7 linked regions of the Homo sapiens genome follow. The protein of the gene in region 1 interacts with the protein of each later gene in a pairwise test. Each region holds a gene or a part of one and is shown in the gene's direction. Other genes may lie near its edges. The genes, in order: C1orf94, IPO11, AKAP9, TXNDC9, MEIS2, TNPO2 and PLEKHB2.

What was found.
Region 2: the proteins of C1orf94 (region 1) and IPO11 interact in binary tests that used the Homo sapiens proteins (3 or more experiments, as listed by UniProt).
Region 3: the proteins of C1orf94 (region 1) and AKAP9 interact in binary tests that used the Homo sapiens proteins (3 or more experiments, as listed by UniProt).
Region 4: the proteins of C1orf94 (region 1) and TXNDC9 interact in binary tests that used the Homo sapiens proteins (3 or more experiments, as listed by UniProt).
Region 5: the proteins of C1orf94 (region 1) and MEIS2 interact in binary tests that used the Homo sapiens proteins (3 or more experiments, as listed by UniProt).
Region 6: the proteins of C1orf94 (region 1) and TNPO2 interact in binary tests that used the Homo sapiens proteins (3 or more experiments, as listed by UniProt).
Region 7: the proteins of C1orf94 (region 1) and PLEKHB2 interact in binary tests that used the Homo sapiens proteins (3 or more experiments, as listed by UniProt).

Annotation. Positions count from the first base shown.
Region 1 is NC_000001.11:34,183,407-34,186,906, forward strand, and holds part of C1orf94 (uncharacterized protein C1orf94), read left to right. Parts: intron 1-3,500.
Region 2 is NC_000005.10:62,482,263-62,485,762, forward strand, and holds part of IPO11 (importin-11), read left to right. Parts: intron 1-838; coding exon 839-1,031; intron 1,032-1,747; coding exon 1,748-1,900; intron 1,901-3,156; coding exon 3,157-3,200; intron 3,201-3,500. UniProt on the Homo sapiens protein: Functions in nuclear protein import as nuclear transport receptor. Serves as receptor for nuclear localization signals (NLS) in cargo substrates.
Region 3 is NC_000007.14:91,943,862-91,947,361, forward strand, and holds part of AKAP9 (A-kinase anchor protein 9), read left to right. Parts: intron 1-3,500. UniProt on the Homo sapiens protein: Scaffolding protein that assembles several protein kinases and phosphatases on the centrosome and Golgi apparatus. Required to maintain the integrity of the Golgi apparatus. Required for microtubule nucleation at the cis-side of the Golgi apparatus.
Region 4 is NC_000002.12:99,322,834-99,326,333, reverse strand, and holds part of TXNDC9 (thioredoxin domain-containing protein 9), read left to right. Parts: intron 1-3,500. UniProt on the Homo sapiens protein: Significantly diminishes the chaperonin TCP1 complex ATPase activity, thus negatively impacts protein folding, including that of actin or tubulin.
Region 5 is NC_000015.10:36,898,050-36,901,549, reverse strand, and holds part of MEIS2 (homeobox protein Meis2), read left to right. Parts: intron 1-3,500. UniProt on the Homo sapiens protein: Involved in transcriptional regulation. Binds to HOX or PBX proteins to form dimers, or to a DNA-bound dimer of PBX and HOX proteins and thought to have a role in stabilization of the homeoprotein-DNA complex.
Region 6 is NC_000019.10:12,706,933-12,710,432, reverse strand, and holds part of TNPO2 (transportin-2), read left to right. Parts: intron 1-3,500. UniProt on the Homo sapiens protein: Probably functions in nuclear protein import as nuclear transport receptor. Serves as receptor for nuclear localization signals (NLS) in cargo substrates.
Region 7 is NC_000002.12:131,125,836-131,129,335, forward strand, and holds part of PLEKHB2 (pleckstrin homology domain-containing family B member 2), read left to right. Parts: coding exon 1-70; intron 71-848; coding exon 849-951; intron 952-3,500. UniProt on the Homo sapiens protein: Involved in retrograde transport of recycling endosomes.

The DNA of each region.
Region 1 (3,500 bases):
TCATGAATTCATTCAACAAACACAATTGCCTTCGCAGTACCAGGCTGTATGATGGGTCCCAGGGACACAGAGATAAGCAGAACAGAAGCCTTTCCTCAAAGAGCTCCCAGTCTAGTGGGTGGCATGAACACAGATACATCTGACAACAATGACATTCAACAAATATTGCCAGGTGCGGTGGCTTATGCCTATAATCCCAGCACTTTGGGAGGCCGAGGTGGGTGGATCACTTGAGGTCAGGAGTTTTGAGATCAGCCTGGCTAACATGGTAAAACCCTGTCTCTACTAAAAATACAAAAATCAGCTGAGCGTGGTGGCAGGTGCCTATAATCCCAGCTACTCAGGAGGCTGAGGCAGAAGAATTGATTGAACCCAGGAGGCAGAGGTTGCAGTGAGCCGAGATTGTGCCATTGCACTCCAGTCTGGGTAACAAGAGCAAAACTCCGTCTCAAAAAAAAAAAAAAATTAGTATGCACCTATTACTGAAATGTCTGAAAAAAATACAATGGTGGAAAAGCTGGGGACAGTCTCTGACCTCCTTTATGAACTTTCAACATCTTGCAAAAGGCAGATCACAACACACTATAGTAAGTGTTCTGGTGATGAAGTGCCAGTGCCATGGAAGCGCACTGAGGGGACACATGACTGAACATTGTACTTGACTACTGGACTGGGCTTGGTACTTAGGGAAGTCTTCCTCTGAGGGAAGCAATCTGAAGCAGCAACAGATGAGACCCCTGCACTGTGTGATGAAAGATGCGGGTGTAGTCCGCAGGTAGCAGGGATGTCATGATTAATAACTGCAAAGGTTTCCATAGTTATGTCCCCCAGCTAGGTCTTGAGAAGAGAGAAAGAACAGCCTATGGAAAGAGCCCAGCAGCAGGCGCAGGGAAAGATGAGAAGTTACATGGGAGTGAAGTGTAGCATGTGTTAGTGACCGGGAGAAGGTGGCTCGAGCTTGCTGGGTGTGGTTGGCTTCCCTGGATGCTTCCAGGCCCTCTGTCAGCACCCAAGACTTTCCCATTTACCTGTCATAACAAACTTGGTCTGCAGAGTGGAAAGGCTTTGGTGAGCATTATTCCAAGCCAGACTCAGGTAGGGAGATAAATCTACTGAAATAAAAGAAATCTGTTTAAGCATTTTTTGAAAAACAGAAGTGGTTTATTGATTGGCAGCTTTCTGAGGCTATTTGTTGCAAGAAGGAAGAAGGCTTTTTTGCACTTATTTTGGTAAACTTTCACTGTTGGCTTCCATTGGCCAGTTCTCCACACTGGTGAGCAAGTGATATTTGGGAATCCACTCGGCTTCCTTGCTTGAATGGCTCTCCCAACAAACATCTCTTTGTGCTACTGTTATTTAAACAATTAGGTGAACCCGACTTCTCTGGAAAAGTTGCTTGGAATACATAGCCTCTTTTGTTTTTTTTGGTTTTTTTTTTAGCATTATTCTTTAAAAAGCTTGAAACCTGGTGATGGGAGTGATAAAGACAAGACTCAGATACGGAAACTCAGGCTGATGTCTCAGACTAGAAGCCAGCTCTGAAGATCTTTGGAGTCTAATCTCAACTAGTGTTTTCTCCTCTTGGAGGGGTCAATACCTCTTTGAAAATCTGAGAAAAAGCTTCTGTGCAGCTTTTGTCTGAAACACATCCTCACATCTCTCAGTATTTGGGAATGATTTCAGAGACCCCGTGGGCCACAAGTTGGAACCCTTTGCTCTGAGACCCAACCCTTAAGCAAGTGTCTCCCTCTCTCTTTATTTTACTTTATTTTTAAATTTATTTTTATTTTTTAGATGGAGTCTCGCTCTGTCACCCAGGCTGGAGTGCAGTGGCGCGATCTTGGCTCACTGCAACCTCCACCTCCCGGGTTCAAGCAATTCTCCTGCCTCAGCCTCCCAAGTAGCTGAGATTACAGGCATGCACCTCCATGCCTGGCTAATTTTTGTATTTTTAGTAGAGACAGGGTTTCACCATATTAGTCAGTCTGGTCTCGGACTCCTGATCTCAGGTGATCCACCTGGCTTGGCCTCTCAAAGTGCTGGGATTATAGGCGTGAGCCCTTGCACCCAGCCTTTCCCTCTCTTGAGCTTCCCAATGCTGGGTCTCAGCACCCCAGTCCCATTGACACTGATGCACCCCTGTTCTTGTTTGTCAAGTGAGCTAGTGCTGGCAGACACTGGCTCTTCCCTCCTCCAGCCTGCCACACGTCCTGGCAGTCCCCCTTCATGATGGCCTTTGGTGCCTTGCCTCCCTGCTCGTCTCTCCTCTGCCACCCTCACCACATCTCTTCTCACTGCATTGGGTGCCTTTCCCTCCAGGATGCCCTCCACCCTTCACCAATTTCATCTTCTGAAGCAGGTCAACAGCACTGCTCAGACATCTCTCATGGCTCGCCTTGTCCTCTGGCCCCTTGGGCCTGGTTTTCAGGGGTCTCTGTAGTGGCCCTGCCTCCATCTCTAGATGCACGTCTTGCTGGTCTCCTGCACATGCTCTATAAACCAACAAGAGCTACCAGCAGGTGCATGTCACCTTGCCTTTGCTCATGTTATTCCACTACCAGGAATGCCCTTCTCCCATATCTCTGTCTATCTAAATCTTATCCATCCTTAAGGACCTAGAATAAGTGTGTTGTCCTCTGAATTCTTTGTTGCTCACATCATTCAACATTTTTCTTTCTCTTTTTCCCACATTCCTCTTTTTAATTGAAATAAACAACTATGTCCCACCTCTTTCCTAAGTGTTTTAAGGTGGCCCAGATAACAAAAAATAAGGAGACAGGTGGATTAGAGTTCCAGCACACTTTCTAGCTGTAAGCAAGTTCCCCAAACTTTCTGTGCCCTATTTTCCTCATCTGAAAAAATGGGAAAAGTCACAGCGACTATTTCAAGGGATTACTATGGAAGCAAATGAAATGATATATGTAGAGCTCACACAGCACTGGGAATAAGAGAAGGACTCGATGTTCATCATCATCATCACCATTCCACCATCATCATTGTCATTATCATGGATAAAATAACAGGACATGATTGATATGGGACAAGGAGATATATATGCCAGGAAACTTAGGCTGAAGGGAAACTGCTCAACTGATAACAGCATCTGGTTTGAGATTCTTGGCAGCCAGGGCATAAAGGGAGATCATAGCATTCGGTTTTCATAACTCATATTGTCTTCTAAGAGAAAGCAGAAGGGGTCATCATAAGAGACAAATGCTTCCCCAGCTCTGAGAGCTACATGGGATAGATCTTTTGAGGACGATAGAATGGAAGAATCTGTTTAAAATCAGCTCTCTTCTTGACCATTGGCCAGAGGGAAGGACACAGCCCCTTAATCGGGGCTATCAGCCCAGTTCCAGTGTGGGATTCTGATGAGGTGGTGGGCACCTGGCACATATCGTGTGCTGCCTTGTGGCAACAATTCCTCTTCCGCTACTGCACTATGGGCTTCTTAAGGGCAAGGTCTGTGTCTTACTCATCTTTGTCTCCCCAGTGCCCAG
Region 2 (3,500 bases), on another chromosome or scaffold:
GGTTTTTTTGTGTCTCTGTCTCCTTCAGTTCTGCTCTGATCTTAGTTACTTCTTGCCTTCTGCTAGCTTTGGAATGTGTTTGCTCTTCCTTCTCTAGTTCTTTTAATTGTAATGTAAGGGTGTTGATTTTAGATCTTTCCTGCTTTCTCTTGTGGACATTTAGTGCTATAAATTTCCCTCTACACACTGCTTTAAATGTGTCCCAGAGACTCTGGTACATTGTGTCTTTGTTCTCATTGGTTTCTTTTTCTGTGGCTAAGATTGATGAGTGATCTATCAAATTTCCTCAGCAGCTTTTCTCTTATTTTAACAGCTGTTGATCATCATTTGCCTAGATCCATTATTTGATCAGGAGTTACACAATGATGGCATTCTAATTCTGTTATTCCTTTTGCATTTATTAGCTGAAATTCTTCTATAAAGAAGACATCTCCCTCCTTAGCTATTTGATAACATTAAAATATAATTCATATGGGAAAGGGAAGATAATATTTAAATTCTTTACCTTAGTCTATTACTTTTAAAGGTCTATTGTATATTTAAGCGTTTTGTATCATATTCACCCATTGTTATAAAATTAAGTATGAATTGAGTCTGTTTTGGTTTCTGTATTGAAAATAATAGAAAGTTCTTATTATCAGATATAATCTAACATAATCCTCATTATATGATGTGCCTCAAGAAGAGTTATGATAATGTAAAACTGAGTGAACATAGACTCCACACTAAGGTTCAAACTGCTAAATGATTATTAGTAAAGTTATAATTGGAGTGATTATATTCCAATATGAATTTGGGGAAAATACATTTTAATTTTTATTTATTTATTTTTCTACAGCTTTTGGACTTCTTGGATCAGCATCCTTTTTCATTTACTCCTCTAATTCAGAGATCACTGGAATTTTCTGTAAGCTATGTTTTTACAGAAGTTGGTGAAGGCGTTACATTTGAACGATTCATTGTCCAATGTATGAATCTTATTAAGATGATTGTCAAAAATTATGCTTATAAGCCATCCAAAAATTTTGAAGGTAATTCCTTTATTGGCAGTTTAAAAGAATTATTTTAATCTTAAGTGTGATATAATTGCTATAATTACAAACTTTTTAAAAAATGTCATTTTAGTCTGAAAAATAAATTGTTGCTGGGACATGAAAAAGATATAAGGATTATAGGCTTTAGTATGTTTATACTAGCTTTTAAAAACAACATAGTGCATTTAATAAGCCATTTTTTGTAGCACAAATTGGTTGAAGCTTAGGGACTTTAAGAATTAGGTACTATAGTCATCACTGCAGCTCATATTGTAGGGTGTATTCATTTGAACAAATAAAAGCTTTCTCTGACTTTATATAAAGTGTGATTGTTTCTAGACAGGTTAAATTGTTGTATTATTTGGAATTCATTCATATGCGTGTGTGCCAAGATGAATGAAGAAGTCTTGGTGGTGGGGGAGAGAGAAACACATGCACACACCCCCCACACCCTCTACATTATGAGGAAGTTATTTCAGTATGCCGTGATGGTATTGCATGGTAATATATAAGCTGTAATGCCAGAGGCAAGATTGATGTGAGTGTGTTGTAAGGAAAGAGTATCTTTGAGATTTGTTTATAATAAAAATGAAAATTTATACACAAGTGTATCTTCTTCCCTGAGAGTGTATTTTTTATTTATTTAAGTTACATAATCCAATGTAGCTACAATGTTTGGCTATACAATTAACTTGGAAATTTCATTTTTCTAGATAGCAGCCCTGAAACTCTTGAAGCCCATAAGATTAAGATGGCATTCTTCACATATCCTACTTTGACAGAGATATGTAGAAGATTAGTCTCTCATTATTTCCTATTAACTGAAGAAGAACTGACAATGTGGGAAGAAGACCCAGAAGGCTTTAGTAAGAATTAATTTTTTAGTGTTAGAATGACTTTTCTCCCCTTTCTATAAATATCTGTTTGAGTGATAGGTATAATATTGTATTTTCATACAGCACTTTTGATCTGGAAATCTTGGTGTTTTAAAATTAACTTACTCTTTCGTTGTTATCCATTAGAACAAATTGAGAAGCAGAAAATGAATGACTTATGCAAATATGTTGTAGAATTTTGTCCAGGAAAAGACCTTTTTAGTTTTTGGATTCCTTTACAAATATATCATGTAGTTTCAAACAAAAATATAAAATTAACTCTCTCTTACCCTGTCAGTTTCTATTTTGTGATTCATTCCATGTTATTTTTTATTTGTAGAAATTCTTGCAAAGAAATTTGGAGGTTTTTGATGAATAGTTTTTTTTTTTTTTTTGGACAGGACATCTTTATATCTGTTTGAATTTTAGTACTAGATAGATAAGTAGAATAAGTCTGTTGGGACCCTTGCTATAGAAAATCAAGGAATCATGTGTCTAATAAAGTACTTACTTGTATGTGAATTACTTAAGCTATGGTGGGACATAGGCTAGATTTTAGCCTCCCTTTTCTCTTTGGTTGTGTACCCTTGTGTAGTTACACGTTTCCTAATATTTTAAGAGTGCCCAAAAGTTTTTGTAATACTTATCTTCGCCATGCTTTTGGTTTTTAAAAGTAATTTTAGTTTTAATACAGGATTGTACTGTACAACATGTCTTTTCTTGTTTTTTTTTTTGCTTTTTTTGAAACATCTTTTTTCAATTTGCTTTCTTTATATAGTACATACAACATTGTAACATAAAGTGTTGAGTCCCTAAATTTTTAAGAGCCCTGAAGTATTTTTCTTTAAATTCAAGAAATTTATGGAGAGTGTGAGTAATCATTGTACCTAGTGAAACATGATTACTGTATTGAAATGAAATGATTCTCAGAATTCTAGTGATATTGGATCAGGTGATAGCAGATACCCTGGAAATGACAACTACTTTGAGCTTTTTTCCATAAAGAATTTTTATCGAAAATGAGAATGCTTATGGATATAGTAAGCACTTAATAGACGACTGTGAGATACACAACTGTGATCTGTAGCATATAGTAACAAAATCTGTGTAAGGCCTGTGTTCCCAAGGCTTTGCTCTTAATGTTATGTTTAAAAGAGTTCACAAAAATATTATACTGATGTTATTAAAATCTTTGTTTTCTAAACCAAGATGTTGAAAATGTCATTATTACATATTTTTAATTGCAGCAGTGGAAGAAACAGGAGGAGATTCTTGGAAATATAGTTTGAGGGTAAGTATTAATTGCAAGAAAAATTGATAGGGGAAAGCTTAATCTTTCTAAAGCTCTTAGTAGAGAATGACACTCTATTAAAGATTCCAGACATTTGCTGGGCATGGTGGCTCACACTTTAATCCTAGCACTTTGGGAAGCCAAGGTGGGAGGATCGCTTGAGGCCAGAAATTCAAGACCGGCCTGGTAAACATAGTGAGACCCTGTCTCTGCAAAAAGTAAAAAAAGGAAAAAAAAATTAGACCAGAGTGGTGGCGCATACCTGTAGTCCCAACTCTTCAGGAATCTGAGGCAGGAGGA
Region 3 (3,500 bases), on another chromosome or scaffold:
TTTATCTGAGACTTCATTCTGCAAATGTCTCATTTGTTCACTGGACTTAAGTATTGTATTTGATAATCTAGTTTTGCAAACCACAACTTACAAATCTTTTTGGGGGTAATTTATTGATAAACAGTTCCATTGGAAAATTCCCTTTCTGTATCTAAACCTTATAAATGATCACTTTTTAAACAGTTTGTCATGTATGCAGTATAATATATAGTATACTGTATAAAATGTTTTATACTACCCCAAATCTGTAATAATGGGTTAATAAATTATGATATGTAAAATAATTCTACAAAGACTTTTTGAGTGTGGAAAATGCCCACAAATAATGCCAGGTTAAAAAGAAAAAAGTTACCAGGAAAAGGTATATGTACATATTTAAATATGAAGACACCTGAAAAAAAGCACCAAGATGTAAATCGTGGCTATCTCTGGGTGGTGGCTTATAGGCAATTTTAATTTTCTTTATACTTTTAGTATTTTCCAAATTCTTGATACAATGTATCTCTTTTATGACCAGAAAAGAATATTCAAATGCCATTTTTTTTTTTTTTGAGACAGCCTGTCTCCCAGGCTGGAGTGCAGTGGCAGGATCTTGGCTCACTGCAGCCTCCACCTCCCAGGTTCAAGCGATTCTCCTGCCTCAGCCTCCCAAGTAGCTGGGATTACAGGCATTTACCACCACGCCTGGCTAATTTTTGTATTTTTAGTAGAGATGGGGTTTCACCATGTTGGCCAGGCTGGTCTCGAACTCCTGCCGTTAAGTGATCTGCCTGCCTCGACCTCCCAAAGTGCTGGGATTACAGGCATGAGCCACTGCACTCAGCCTCAAATGCCATTTTTTAAAAAACATAAAGGCTTATCAAATACATTATATTAAACACATGTTATAGTGTATGACCATTATCCAGAACAGGAAAATGAGGCACAGAATAACTAGGTTTCCTATTTTAGCGTAGGCCTGGAATTGTAATTGCTATTTCAGTGCAGAGTGTATAATATAGTTGGGATTATATTGTTAGACATTTTATAGATTTCCTTTCTGTTTTTGTTGTGCTTATTCTTTCCTTGCTGTTAGTTCGTATTGCTATGGGCATGCTCTTACTCCTCATCTGCCTCTTTTCCTAATTTGCTGTTTTAGATTTGCTACGACTAAGGAACCCAGAACTGAGGTTGACAGAATACTATGTAAAAAGAAAAAACAACAACAACAAAGACCTTAGGCGGGGTGTGATGGCTCACTCCTGTAATCCCAACACTGGGAGGCTGAGGTGGGAGGATCGCTTGAGCCCAGAGGTTCTAGATCAGCCTGGGCAATGTAGTGAGACCCCATCTCTAAAAAGAAAAAAGTATAAAAAACAAAACAGGTGGGGCGCAGTGGCTCACACCTGTAATCCAAGCACTTTAGGAGGTTGAGGTGGGTGGATCATCTGAGGTCAGGAGTTTGAGACCAGCCTGGCCAACATGGCAAAACCCCGTCTCTACTAAAAAATACAAAAAAATTAGCCAGGCGTGGTGGCAGGTACTAATCCCAGCTACTGGGGAGGTGGAGGCAGGAGAATCACTTGAACCCAGGAGGTGGAGGTTGCAGTGAACCGAGGTTGTGCCACTGTACTCCAGCCTGGGTGACAGAGCAAGACTCTGTCTCAAAAAACAAAACAAAACAAAAACAGAGGCCAGTGTAGCCTGCCCAGTGGGCTTTAGGGCAGTTTAGTTTTTCTGCTGCTTGTTGGTTGTTTTGGTTTACTGTTGGGTCCTCAGCTATTTCCTCAGTATTGATGTTGCAAGAAGCATGACCCTGGGAGATGTGAGACATTACTGCATTATGTATTAAGTAAATATTTTCAGAGCTGGGCTAGCTCCCTCTGCAGTGTTTTGACGAGGATGGCACTACATAGGTTGTCCTTGTGTTGAACCAAACTATTTTAACTCCATTTTAAATGACTTCATTTTTTTCCAAGTATAATTATTCATGGCACGTAAAGGAAGTATTGTAATTTAAGTGAACAGAATTAAATAGAGGACAGTTGTATATTTAATATAAAATTATTACTCATGTAAATTTGCATTAGGTATACTTTTTAAAGTTATTCAGTATTTTATATAATGGGCATTATTTGCTGAATAATTATAAAAAACTACTGTCTATTATATTCAGTAATTTGTAATTACATGACTTTTGTTTAACAAACATTTTCAGTGTGAAGAGTAGTTCCAATTGTGTACAAAAAAAAGGATGGTGCTCCATGCAAGCTGTATATTGATTATTGATAGCAGGACTTTTCAGTTACTGTTTCCACTGTGATAGACAAAGCTGGTTATGGTGTAAAACTGTTCTTTGCATATTTCAGATACTTTGTTCCACAGCTAAGAAAGTGTTTTCCCTTCCTGTTTTAAGCATTCTAGTTTTTCATACTTAGATGTGGCAGAGCTTACTTAGCATTCCGAGTAGATGCAGCAGTTTGATAGCTTCATCAACATTTATTGCAGCAATAGTGCAGTGCCTGTGACTTAAAACTAATTCATAACCTTCAGGCTTTTTTTTTTTTTGAGACGAGATCTCGCTGTGTTGTCCAGGCTGGAGTGGCAGCCTGCCTTGACCTCCTGAGCTCAAGTGATCCTCCTGCCTCAACCTCCTGAGCACCTGGGACTACAGATGTGCACCACCACACCTGGCTAATTGTTAAAATTTTTTTGTAGAGATGGGATTTCACCATGTTGCCCAGGCTGGTCTTGAACTCCTGGGCTCAAGCAATCCTCCTGCCTTAACCTCCCAAAGTGCCGAGATTATAGGGGTGACCCACTGCACCCAGCTTAGGCTTTGTCGGAATGAAGCAAAACATGGTGTTTAGAGAGAGAATGTGGAGGAAGGAACGTGATGCCCTGTCAGTGAAACTGAAAGTTGAATGATAGCTCATGGAAAGAGGAAGTGAAAAAGGTAGGATACATCCAAGTGATTGAAATATGACAAGAATGGAACAAAAATTTTTTCAAACAAAAACATCTCTTATTTTATAAATAAAAAGGTTCATAGTAAAAGCTAAACTATGTCTACAAAATATCTATTATAGGCTACTGAATATTGAAATGTAAATGAATTTCTTCTAATATAGCTAGAAAAGGTTATGGTAAATTGCTAAACAATAAGGGACATTATTTATATTCATTTCTTAGTAAGATTCCACTAAAATTAAGATTAGTCACTTTATGTAATTGCTTAACATCCATTTAAAAACTATAATTTGGAAAAGCTACGGAATTTTTCAAAACTTATTTATAAAAGTGGTTTGGTGTCTGGGGTGTGTGTGTGTGTGTGCGTGTGTGTGTGTGTGTGTGTGCTGGAGAGAGGGAGAAAGAGAATTTATAATACTGCTATCTGGTCTGGTAGAAATGGCACTAGGACTTTGGAGACATTTATGTGTTCATTTGTTCAACCAACATTTTTGAATGCCTACGACTGCAGCTATGAACTTTTACTTAGCAAGCATTTTTTTTTCCCCCCG
Region 4 (3,500 bases), on another chromosome or scaffold:
CTTGATCTCACAACCCAACAGCTTCATTGTTAGTTAACACCTTTCAAGAATTGATTGCCTGGTATTCATTGACTAAGAGAATAAAAATGAAACAAAATATTGAGATGGTGAAATCCCTTGTGAGGAACAGTGAGAGAAGGGATTAGGCAGGTAGAAAGGTATCAGAGAAACCTCTGCCCTTATGGTACACAACCATCTCGCATTGGCACACATTCCTCAAGTTGCCAACCTCTGACAAATATGATGAGGTGATATATAAATATACTAGTATGTAAAATATTATTTGTCCACTTGTTTTTTTTTTGTTGTTTTTTTTTGTTTTTGAGACAGAGTCTTACACTGTCACCCAGGCTAGAGTGCAATGGCAGGATCTTGGCTCACTCCAACCTCCACCTCCCGGGTTCAAGTGATTCTCCTGCCTCAGCCTCCCGAGTAGCCAGGGCTACAGTCACCCACCACTACACCCGGCTAACTTTTGTCTTTTTAGTAGAGACAGGGTTTCTCCAGATTGGCCAGGCTGGTCTCAAACTCTTGACCTCAGGTGAACCACCCACCTTGGCCTCCCAAAGTGTTGGGATTACAAGTATGAGCCACGGCACCCGGCCTCACTTGTTTTTTTTATGTCTTTCCCAACTAGATTGTTCGTTTTGTAGAGGCAGCGCATTTGCCTGTATTGTGACCTACTGTTCTCTGGGATCATAGCCCTAAAGCAACTGCCTGACGCATAGTAGGTGGTCAATAAATACATTTGATGGTGTATAAACAGTGCATCACCAGGAGTACTCACCTTCAAACAGAACTGAAAAATCAAAATCATCCAGTGAACTTTATATATTAGCAAAGTTCCTAGCACATAGTAGGCAGGATGCTTTCATGTATATTATCCCTAGAACATTCACAATAATCTTCAGAGGCACTTATTATTATTCCTGTATTTCATGTATGGAAACCAAGATTTGGAGAAATTGACTCACCTAGTATCACTCAGATACTAAATGATAAAAAAAAGAGAGAGATTGGAACCCATGTTTTAAGCCTATTGCTATTTTTTTAATTTTTAACTTTTGTGGGTAGTAGTAGGTAAATATGGGGTACATGAGATATTTTAACACAGGCATGCAGTGTTTAATAATCACATCAGGGTAAATGGAATATCCATCACCTCAAGCTTTTATCCTTTGTGTTATAAACAATCTAATTATGCTCTTTTAGTTATTTTTAAACATACGTAAAGGCCTATAGCTATTTATACCATGACTGTTGTTTTGGATTTTTAAAAATTGATTGACGGGTTGGGCGCCATGGCTCATGCCTGTAATCCCAGTACTTTGGGAGGCTGAGGCAGGTGGATCATGAGGTCAGGAGATCAAGGCCATCCTGGCCAACATGGTGAAAACCCATCTCTACTAAAATACAAAAAGTTAGCTGGGCATGGTGGCTCGTGCCTGTAGTCCCAGTTGTGCAGGAGGCTGAGGCAGGGGAATTGCTTGAACCTGGGAGGCGGAGGTTGCATTGAGCTGAGATCGTGCCACTGCACTCCAGCCTGGCAACAGAGCAAGACACTCTGTCTTGCTCTTTAAATACAAATTAAAATTAGCCAGGCAATGGTGCGGGTGCCTGTAATCCTAGCTTCTTAGGAGGCTGAGCCAGGAGAATTGCTTGAACCCAGGAGGTGGAGGTTGCAGTGAGCAGAGGTCGTGCCACTGCACTCTAGCCTGGGCGACAGAGCGAGACTCCATCTCAAAAAAAAAATACGTTCCTTACTGCAGTTAAAGTATGGAGTTGATTTATTTACAAATTTTCAGGAACATATTTCTCATATAAAGGTTGATTTATCATTTGTTTTGAGCTTTATTTAAAAACCATTTATTAATTTGTTCTCTCTTACCATTTTTCACTGAAATCTCGTTACTGAACTACATGAGTAACATATGAAAAAACATATCCGGGGAAAAAGTGATGAGGCACCAAGGTTACACATAACTTATGTTAGAGCCAAACTTAGTTCAGGAAAAACTACATCAAGTGCACAAAAAGCTTACTGGTAAAAATAACCATGAAGTATTTTGTGTGTGAGTCATCTAGAGGTAGTTCTCAAGCTTTATTTGAGCATAAGAACAGCTGTATGTTTCCCAACTCCACTGCCAGAGAATTTTGATTCATCTGGATATTTTAAAAGTTGACGGCAGGCTGGGTGTGGTAGCTCACACCTCTAATCCCAGCACTTTGGGAGGCTGAGGCAGGTGGATTGCTTGAGGTCAGCAGTTCAAGACCAGCCTAGTCAACATGGTGAAACCCCATCGCTACTAAAAATACAAAAATTAGCCGGGCGTGGTGGCAGGTGCCTGTAATCCCAGCTACTCGGGAGGCTGAGGAAGGAGAATCGATTGAACCCAGGAGGCAGAGATTACAGTGAGCCGAGATCGCGCCACTGCACTGCAGCCTGGGTGACAGAGTGAGAGTCCAACTCAAAAAAGATGAATAAATAAAAGTTGATCATAATGAACACCTGGGGTTAAGAACCACCGGTCTAAAAGATTGTTACAATAGTCTGTTTTAGAAACACTCGTGAATTGGCCAGTTGAAAATGAATTTTTTGAGACAGAGTCTTACTCTGTCGCCTAGCCTGGAGTGCAGTGGTGTAATCTTAGCTCACTGTAACCCCCACCTCCCAGGTTCAAGTGATTCTCGTGCCTCAGCCTCCTGTGTAGCTGGGATTTCAGGTGCCCATCATGACGCCCAGCTAATTTTTGTATTTTTAGTAGAGATGGGGTTTCACCATATTGACCAGGCTGGTCTTGAACTCTTGGCCTCAAGTGATCTGCCCGCCTCAGCCTCCCAAAGTGTTGGGATTACAGGCGTGAGCCACTGCATCAGGCCAGAAAATAAATTTTAATGTAAAGAAGATGTCACTTTTTTTGTTTGTTGAGATGGAGTCTCACTATGTTGCCCAGGTTGGAGTACAACGGCACAGTTTCGGCTCACTGCAGCCTCCACCTCCCAGGTTCAAGTGATTCTCCTGCCTCAGCCTCCCAAGTAGCTGGGACTACAGGCATGCACCACCACACCCAGCTAATTTTTGTATTTTTAGTAGAGACAGGGTTTCACCGTGTTGGCTAAGCTGGTCTCAAACTACTGACTTCAAGTGATCCGCCTGCCTCAGCCTCCCAAAGTGCCAAGATTACAGATGTGAGCCACCGCACCTGGCCAAGAAAATCTCACTTCTGTTTCCGTCTTCATTGGAAGATGGCTTAATAAAAGTTACTACTGGTAGGCTGGGTGCAGTGGCTCACGCTTGTAATCCTAGCACTTCGGGAGGCCGAGGCAGGCGGATCACAAGGTCAGGAGATCAAGACCATCCTGGCTAACACAGTGAAACCCCGTCTCTACTAAAAATACAAAAAATTAGCCGGGCATGGTGGCAGGCGCCTGTAGTCCCAGCTACTTGGGAGGCTGAGGCAGGAGAATGGCATGAACCAGGGAGGCGGAGCTTGCAGTGA
Region 5 (3,500 bases), on another chromosome or scaffold:
CTCATTCATTTACCTTACTTTGCTCACGGTTGTCTGTGAGAAAGGAGCCATTGTCTGGTCACCAGTGGAAAACTTATGTCTGCGACATGACTCCATCATTTGCGTGCCCAAGTTCATCTTCAAAGGCATTAAGCTTGCCTTATTCACTGATTTAACCATTTTAATGTATCTTACTGAGAAAATCCTACTCTCAGCTGTAACCATAGCACAGAGAAATACTTGCTTTTTTTGTAAAGTAAGAAAACATGGAGAAATTTGATAAGTGACTTGCCAAGGCTGAAGTTTCATCATTTGAAACACCAGCCAGGAGCAAGTGCTGTGAATAAGCACTGTGGCTGATGGGTCCCAGGGCTGGGGACAGTAGGGAAGCAGGGCCTTTTCATGTTTTAACAGGTCCCCGGTCACTGAGCTACCTACGCCTTTCCCCAGTTGATCTGATCTCTCTTCAACGGTTCAGTCCCCTTCCCTGCGCAAAGCAATCCATGCAGAATCTTCAATTCCAGCTATTCTTGATTCCTCCTCAGAGTGTTCAGGGATGGCAGCTTTCCAGGTAACTCCATGGAGGCCTGCACTTTCTAACAAAAGGAATGCCTCCAAAAGGAGTTGGTTACCAGGTGTGGCATGAAGTTAGTGAACCAGAAAGAAGGGATTTATCCGCCATTTAAAAAGATTGGGGGGTGGAGAAAGAAAGGAATAAAGAAAAGAAACCAACAACAAACAGGAATGACACCTAAATCTACTTCTATCAATCTGAACCATACTTCGGAGTAAAAAGTCTTTAAAGAAAAATCATGATGGTCAGAGTTCAGTTGTAGAAAAGTATGCAAAGCTACCAAGTTTAGACTTTCTGAGGACAGGAGAGGTCTCTGGGAAATAGCTCTTCAGCAAGGCAGTAAGATGAGATTACAGTGATATTTGCTACCTTGGGTTTATTTGTTTTAATGTATTTTTTCATCTCTGAGTTGAGTCAGAAAGGCCTCGTGATTCTTGGAACATCATTGAATTTATTTCTATAATTAAGTTATTTTTAAACTAACAGTCTTAGTATATAATTTTTAAGGATCACACATACTCATGCATTTTCTACTTAAGTAAAATTTAGAGAAAAAGTAGATAGTCTTAGTAGATACTCTCCCAAGCTTTTGTATGGGCCTGGATACTAACTTTGTGTTCAATACAAATCAATGGAACTAGGGCTCTTTAGGGTATTCATTCCCTAAGGACTCACTAATGAAATTATGTGTAGCCCTTTAAAAAAAGTCACAATGAGGCTAATGAAAATTTTTTTTCTAAGTGAAATCTAGATAGAGCTAGACACTAAGCTTACTGGTACATTTTATGGACAAGTTGTAAAAAAACTCAGAATGTTTTTTAAGAACTGTTTAATATTGAAGAAGACTTTGTAACTTAAATTGTTTAAACCGATAGAAAAGTAGATTATATGCCTGCAACTTCGAAATCATTCTGGTATGACATTAAAACTTAGAGAATTTTTTAATATCAGATACAGATGAAAAATCTAACAGTCTTTGGATTGGAAATAACTTGTGGGGGTTTTCATTAAAGTTGGGTGCAGCTTGCTGCATTTTGGTTAGTTGGATGTCTTCAGCAATTTTTCAAATGTTTTGGGTTTGGCAAAGTCCAAAATGTTTTTTGCCAAGACCCTCTTTTCCCCTTATTTTTTAAACCCGTGTGAAATTCAAGGATAACTTAATCCATATGTGTCTGATTCATTTACACTTAACTCATCAAAATGTTATTTTATAAGGCCCATTTAATATCCATGGAACCTTTTGAGTCTTTTTAAGACAAGTCTTTTGTCTTTGAACCAGCAAGTTACATTTTTCCATATGAATGGAGCCTGAACCTTGAAAGACTGAAGATGAGTTGATTTTCAACTTAGCTTCTTCAAATTTTACGTAAAATCAAAGCTTGATATTCTATTTACTACTTGAGCATTGAAAAAGGTCATTCTAAAAAATATAGATTAGAAGATGTGGAAAAAAATTTATTTCATGTAATTTTGAGAAAAGACCATATATGGAAATTTCATCTTACAAATATTAAATAAATAAAAATTATTTCTAGTTTGATTTGTTTTAGTCTATAATTTAAATGGCTCCATGTTATGTATGTCAGTGTATTTTCTAAGAGTGGCCTCTGAGTCATCAGTACTGGTAGGAGGCGGTAATTTCATTTTTTAATGTCAGGGTTTTCTTACAGTCAGCTCATTAATTGTTAATTTTCATAGTAATATCTATGATGTCAATAAAATATCCCAAGATCAGGGGAATTGACAATTGGCAGGAGTTGCATGTTAAGAGATTTCTGAAAATTTGGGGCCCATATGTTTTTAAAATTCTGTGTGATTTGAAAGAATGTGGTAGAATTATGAATCTGTCAAGAAATAGCACTATGGATCAAAAACATTGTTTGAGAACAAAAATCCAGAGAGGCTAAATGGTGCCCAAGTGAAAAAAGCAAAATCTCTGTGACCCTTTTTAAAAGGACCTAGTGAAAACCTTCAGAGGCTTCTATTCATATTTGCTTAGGAGAAGTGGGTAAAGAAAGGCCATTGCCATAACTGCTAGTGAACATCCAGTCCATGCCATGGTAACTAGTTGAAAATGTTATACTGGAGTGGCATTTCCAAGTTCAGTGCTTCTATAAAGACCTGCTAGCTCACAGAATGCTTTTTTAATGTTCTGCATTGTTGTGTGTCCCCCATTGAACAACCTTTTGAGCGGACCTCGTTTTTACTAATGTAAACATTCTGACTAGTATCCAAAGAAATGACCTTTGAGTGAACCTCTAACCTTCCCCGTAAGTATTTGTTTGAAGACAGTGTGGAGTTCTCCTGCTGAGAACTAAGAACCATGATGCCTTGCAGCTCTGTGAGTAAGGGAGTGTTTGGGGGAACTGGAGAGAAAGACATAAATAAGGGAACAACCTCCAGATGTAAAGAATAAAAGAGTGAAATTAAAAAGGGAAAAAAATAGCAATTCGTTTTACCCGAAGAGTTAGCCTATACCGAAAAAAAAATAAAAATAAAAAACGCAAAACACAAAAACCAGGATTAGTAGCACATAAAAGGGGGTAAAACCCCTGCCGAGTGTTGTCCTCTATTAGAAACTTCAAGGAGAAGAGCCTTCTCTGACCCTCCTGAGCATCTCTGCTGGTTTCAAGGTGAGCTGATAAAAACGGTTCCTGGGGTGGAAATATCAGGTCAGTCCTCCTTGGTTGCTGTAAAAGTGGTGGGGAAAGAGTAGATAATTAAGTTCTTTTTCTGATTGGAGGAGGGATGCTTCTGGAAGTCTTTGTGATCTAGTCAGATATTCATTCCTCAGCAACATTTCAGGTGACAGGTGGGAAGAAAGATGCAGTTTCAACTCTCCTTTTGTTTTCACCTCTACATAGCTGATCACTTTCTTTTTTGACAACTGAGCTACACTTTCTTAAGTAATAAAGAAGTCCATTGTTTTGCAAACAAACACCATATG
Region 6 (3,500 bases), on another chromosome or scaffold:
CTCTTGTTCATTCTTGCAGGCAGGTAGTTCTTTCATGTTGTAAGCATAATTACAGCAACAATGATAATAACAGCAGGCACAGCTGCATGCTTGCCTCGTGCACTTATGTAGACAAACATCCTTGGCCCTCACCACCACCTGATGAGCTGGGTGCCGGATCCCAGTTTCGAAGATGGGGAAACTGAGGTACAGAAAGATTGATGCCACTTCCTTACAGTCACTCAGGGTGTGTCTGGGCCTTAAACCTGTTCCTGGCTGCCGGGCTGGCCTGCCAGAGTCAGTAGTAACCCGTGGTAGGTGGTGTTTCATCAAATTCAACCTGGTGTTCTGTAATCGGTGGGGTTTTCAGGCTCCCATGGTCCCGGTGGGACATAAAACTTGTTACAGGAGGGCTTTGTGAGTCCGTTGGAGGCATCATATACCATTGCCTCAGCATCCAGACCTGTGCCAAAAATTTCAGGCATGGCAGCAAAAACCCTCAACCTTGTAAGCTTTCAAAATTTGTCTAAAATTTGTCTAGTTACTGTGGTGCACGCCTGTAATCCCAGCTACTCAGGAGGCTGAAGCAGGACAACTGCTTTAGCCCAGGAGTCCGAGACCAGCCTGGGCAACATAGGGAAACCCTCTTTCTACAAAAAATTTTTTAAAAAGGCCAGGTGTGGTGGCTCATGCCTGTAATCCTAGCACTTTGGGAGGCTGAGGCAGGCAGATCGTTTGAGCCCAGGTGTTCAAGACCAGCCTGGGCAATATAGTGAGACCTCATATCTACCAAAAAAAAAAAAAAAAAAAACCTGATAAAATTAGCCGGCGTGGTGGTAAGTGCCTATAGTCCCAACTAACTGGGAGGCTGAGGTGAGAGGTCAAGGCTGCAGTGAGCCATGATTGCGCCACTGCGTTCCAGCATGGAGAACAGACTGAGACCCTGTCTCAAAAAAAAATTGTCTAAAGAAATGTTTCGACATGTAATATGTGTTTAATGTATCTCATATCTCATGTTAATAGGGTATATATCACACAATACGCTTACATATGTTAATAGATTACATAAGCTGTGTTATTTATTTATTTATTTGAGACTGAGTCTTGCTTTCTCGCCAGGCTGGGGTGCAGTGGCATGATCTTGGCTCACTGCAACCTCCGCCTTCCAGGTTCAAGTGATTCTCCTGCCTCAGCCTCCTGAGTAGCTGGGACTACAGGTGCATGCCACCACGCCCAGCTAATTTTTTTGTATTTTTAGTAGAGACAGGGTTTCACCACGTTGGCCAGGATGGTCTCTATCTCCTGACCTCATGATCTGCCTGCCTTGGCCTCCCAAAGTGCTGGGATTACGGGTGTGAGCCACCTTGCCCAGCCAGCCACCACGCCTGGCCTCTTTTTTTTTTCTTTTTTTTTTGAGATGGAGTCTCCCTCTTATCGCCCAGGCTGGAGTGCAGTGGTGTGATCTTGGCTCACTGCAACAACATTCTGCCTCCCGGGTTCAAGCAATTCTCCTGCCTCAGCCTCCAGAGTAGCTTGGGATTGCAGGAATTCACCACCAGGCCTGGCTAATTTCTTTTTTTTTGAGACGGAGTTTTGCTCTTACTGTCCAGGCTGGAGTGCAATGGCGCAATCTTGACTCACTGCAACCTCTGCCTCCCGAGTTCCAGAGATTCTCCTGCCTCAGCCTCCCAAGTAGTTGGAATTACAGGTGTCCACCACCGCACCTGGCTGATTTTTGTATTTTTAGCAGAGACGGGGTTTCTTTCACTGTGTTGGTCAAGCTGGTTTCGAACTCCTGACCTCAGGTGATCCATCTGCCTCAGCTTCCCAGAGTGCTGGGATTACAGGCGTGAGCCACCGCACCCGGCCTGTATTACATGTTTATGGTAAAAAGATCTATAGGAGTTGAGCTCAAACTGGTAAACATAGATCTTGTGTCTTGGATTATTGGCAATGTGCTATTATCTTTGTTCTCTTTAAATAAAAGAGCAGAGTTCGTGATATTTTAAAAAAAAAAAAAAACCCTGGGTGTGGTGGCTTAAGCCTGTAATCCCAGCACTCTGGGAGGCCAAGGCGGGTGGATCACCTGATGCCAGGGGTTCAAGACCAGCATGGCCAACATGGCAAAACCCCATCTCTGCTAAAAATACAAAAATTAGCCAGGTGTGGTGGTGCATACCTGTAGTCCTAGCTATTGGGAGGCTGAGGCACGACAATCACTTGAACCTGGGAGGCAGAGGTTGCAGTGAGTGGAGATCACACCACTGCACTCCTCCTTGGGGGACAGAGCGAGACTCTGTCTCAAAGAAAACATTAAAAAATTGTTAAAAATGGCTGGGCACAGTGGCTCACGCCTGTAATCCCAGCACTTTGGGAGGCCGAGGCGGTTGAATCAACTGAGGTCAGGAGTTCGAGACCAGCCTGGCTAACACGGTGAAACTTCGTCTCTGCTAAAAATATGAAAAATTAGCCACACGTGGTGGCCCACGCCTGTAGTCCCAGCTACTGGGGAGGTTGAGGCAGGAAAATTGCTTGAATCAGGGAGGCGGAGGTTGCAGTGAGCCAAGATTGTGCAACTGTACTTCAGCTTGGGCAACAGAGCAAGACTCCGTCTCAAAAAAATAATAATAATAAATTAAAAAATTAAACAAAAATAAGGAGAAATAGAACAATCATAAACGGCCAGACACCTATAATCGCAGCACTCTGGGAGGCTGAGGTGGGATCACGTGAGGTCGGGATTTTAAGACCAGTCTAGCCAACATGGTAAAACCCCGTCTCTACTAAAAATATAAAAATTAGTTGGGTATGGTGGCGGGCGCCTGCAGTCCCAGCTACTTGGGAGGCTTAGGCAGGAAATCACTTGAACCCGGGAGGCAGAGGCTGCAGTGAGCCCAGATCACACCACTGCACTCTAGCCTGGGCAACAGAGCAAGACTCCATCTCAAAAAAAAAAAAAAAAAAAAAAAAAAAAGAAAACTCACAAACATCTTAAGAACTGTTTCAAATGCAAAGTGCTTTTATTCCATTTGGGTCACTGCTGCCCCATAAAACCCCACTCACTATGTAACGGAGCCAATTTTGAATTAACACATGAATTCAATTAACACATGAATTAATGCATGAATTGAATTAACGCAATAACACGGAGCTCTTTGGCTGGGCGCGGTGGCTCACGCCTGTAATCCCAGCACTTTGGGAGGCCAGGGCGGGTGGATCACGAGGTCAGGAGACTGAGACCATCTTGGTCAACATGGTAAAACCCTGTCTCTACTGAAAATATAAAAAATTCCCCGGGCATTGTGGCAGAGGCCTGTAATCCCAGCTACTTGGGAGGCTGAGGCAGGAGAATTGTTTGAACCAGGAGGTGAAGGTTGCGGTGAGCCATGATCGTACCACTGCGCCCCAGCCTGGGCGACAGAGCGAGACTCTGCCTCAAAAAAAAATAAAGATAACCCGGGGCTTTGGGATGAGAGGCTTCTGTTGTTTCCCCTCCTGTGCCTGCCTTTACCTGGCTCTGT
Region 7 (3,500 bases), on another chromosome or scaffold:
CAGAATATCGAGGATAAGGTCCACATGCCAATGGACTGCATCAACATCCGCACGGGGCAGGAATGTCGGGGTAAGCTGGCCTGTCTTGGCCAACTTCTGTCTTCTGCTCTTCCTCTGTCTTGCTGGGAGCTTGGTCCTCTTCCTTCCCTGTTCTGCTTTCATTAACAGATTGAAGAAGGGCTCCATCTCAGAGGGGCGACCACAGTGGGGCCCCAGGCACTTAGATTATGAACCACATGGTCGGGAAATATCAGTGTTCTCAGTCCACGTCCCTCGTTCTCGTGGAGAGGGAGCCAGAGCTCTGGGAACCTCAGGAAGCACAGGCCACCCTAGACTACGTTGATTTTGTACTCAGAAACTGGCTTCTGTTTGATGGTGACTCCAGTCAATTGCTTAAAATCTGGGATGTTGGCCAGGCATGGTGGCTCATGCCTGTAATCCCAGCACTTTGGGAGGCCGAGGTGGGTGGATCACGAGGGCAGGAGTTCAAGACCACCCTGGCCAAGATGGTGAAACCCCAACTCTACTAAAAATACAAAAAAATTAGCCAGGTGTGGTGGCAGGTGCCTGTAATCTGGCTACTCAGGAGGCTGAGGTAGAGAATTGCTTGAACCCGGGAGTCAGAGGTTGCAGTGAGCCGAATATATTTTGTGGACGTCATCTTGGCAGCTGGTCTTGTCAGTCAGCCTAGCTATGTTCTTTCTGCATTCTTGGAAAGGCAGAGGGTTCTTTCATAGATGTAGCACTTGATTTATTGTCTAGTCCTTTGCTTCTCTGAGCTGGTAGTTCTTAGAAAATGTAAGAAGAAATCCTGAAAAAAGTTCCTTTATTCTGCTTATTTTTCATAGATACTCAGCCCCCGGATGGAAAGTCAAAAGACTGCATGCTCCAGATTGTTTGTCGAGATGGGAAAACAATTAGTCTTTGTGCAGAAAGCACAGATGATTGCTTGTAAGTTTTGCTTTCTTATGTGTTTAATTTAAAAAGTATTTTCTATTTTAACTTCTGATTACCAAAAAATGAAAAGAAAGGGCGTGGAGTTTTCTTTCAGGCATCAGAATAAGGGACTCAGTGGATGTATGAGAGAAATGCAAGAGTCGCTTTTCCAATTCTAGTTTCTGCCTCTCTCAGACTGCCTAGGCCGATCCCATTGTGGTGAAAATGGCAGAAAGGAATAGCAGTCTCATCATGCTGTCTTTCATTATTAGATTCACAGTGGGTAACGGGCATAGTTGAAATAAAATGACCAGAAAAGCAAGAAAGTAAAGAGTAAGGAAACTGTCAGTTCCTAGGGCTGCTGTCACAAATTGCTGAACACTGAGTGACGGAAATGGCAGAAATTCATTGTCTCATAGTTCTGGAGGCTGGAAGTCTGGAATCAGTGTGTCAGCAGATCCTTGCTCCCTCTGAGATGCTGGGTAGGATCCTTTCTTGCCTCTTCCTAGCTTCTGGTGGTTGCTGGTAGTCCTTGGTGTTCTTTGGCTGACAGCCACATCACTCCGGTCTCTGCCTCTGTTGTCACATGGCCTTCTTCGGCTGTGTCTGTGTCCAGAATTCTCTTTTCTTATAAAGGACACCAATCATAATGGATTAAGGACCCACCTTAATTCACTATGACCTTATCTTAATTTGATTCCATATGCAAATATCCTATTTCCACATAAGGTCCCATTTGAGGGTACTGGGGATTAGGATTTATACATATCTTTTTCATGAGGACACAATTGAACCCATAATAGAGACTTTTGAGAAAGATGGTGAAATGGATTAGAGATCATCTTCCCTGAGGGGAAAACATTTCAATGGTGCAACCAAATAAAGAAGTTTGATCTCAAGCACAAACTACAAACAGTTAAAGAAAGAAATAGATGATTCTACTGAGATGTTCTTCAATCCTACCCGAATCCCAGAAGCAGTGACAAGATGAGTTAATTAAATCTTGCAAATTTTCAGTATTACCCTGTAATCTGGAGTGATGCTGATTAAGTGTAAGTTACTTTTTGGAAAAGCTAGGGAAAAAATCCTTAAGAATGTGATGTCCTTGGGGCCTCAGCAGAGGCTGGACGGTTCTCCCAGGACTCATCATTGCAGGGCAGTGAAAGGCACTGAAGCTCACAGGAGTTGGGTAATTTTCTGTCTGGTGAAGTGAGCCCTAGCATGGGACATTCAAAGGAATATGCTCAGAAGAGAGTGTAGGACCCAGAGTTTTCAGAAAAGACTTACTCGGTCTCAGAAGAAATGTCCTTCTCTTCTAGCCCTGTGCCCTCAGATTACAGAATGTTGATTGTGAGGGTAACACCTAGCCATCAAACTGTTGCTGGGCTGGACTGAGGTAGAACAGGGTGGAACTACCAGTTGATACCAGATTAGGTAGGAAGCGTGTCAAGGAGAAATAACTCATACTTTATGAGAGCAAACAGCAGTTTTAGATATCACTTCCCATGTTAAACGTGAGCAGGATGTAAAGAAGTGGCTTGGCAACTATGCAGATATACCATGAAGGAAAAATAAGAAAAGGAAAATGCAAGCCTCAGGAAAAGCTCCTAGAGTGGAGGAAAATAAAACCCAAGAAACAGGAGCAGAGTCTTCAGGAATGCTTTCCTGGCCACCATATTTAAAATTGTATCTCCCTGTCCCCATACACACTCACCATCTATCAACTATTTATCTTGTTCATCATCTGCTTTCATTAGAATATATGCTGTGTGAGGGCAGAGATTTATGTTTCTTTTCTGCTCTTTTGTGTCTGTAACTTAGAAGGTCTGTTGCTGTCAAGAGGGTGCCATTCACGTTATAATCTGAAGAAAGTGGTCTTCCCTTCAATACAACCCCAAATGAAAAGTGAATCATTGGCATGGAAGAAAAGACTGGAGATACTCTCAGTGACAGGAAAAAGATGAAAAGATCAGAGATATGTTAGACTAAAAAAAGTTCAGAAAGATTATTGATGTCCATAAAGTGTACAACCCAAAAGAGAGAATTACAAATCTAAGGCAAGAAAAATGTTCTGAAATAATCGAACTGAATTGGCAGACCAAAGTCCCTACTAGACTCTTCCACCTGATATGACAACAAAATCTATATAAGATATATGAATAATCCAGTATGATACCCTTTAGCAAAGTGAATGACAATGGTATGCCACATACAAAATCAGTTGGGGAATTTTGCAACTTAACTGCATTCCTTAGAAAGCTAGAACACTTGGGCTGGGTGTGGTGGCTCAAGCTTGTAATCCCAGCACTTTGGGAGGTCAAGGCGGATGGATCACCTGAGGTCAGGAGTTCGAGACCAGCCTGGCCAACATGGTGAAACCTCGTCTCTACTAAAAATACAAAAATTAGCCAGGCGTGGTGGCAGGCACCTGTAATCCCAGCTACTTGGGAGGCTGAGGCAGGAGAATGGCGTGAACCTGGGAGGTGGAGGTTGCGGTGAGCCAAGATCACACCACTGTACTCCAGCCTGGACAACAGAGTGAGACTCCATCTCAAAAAAAAAAA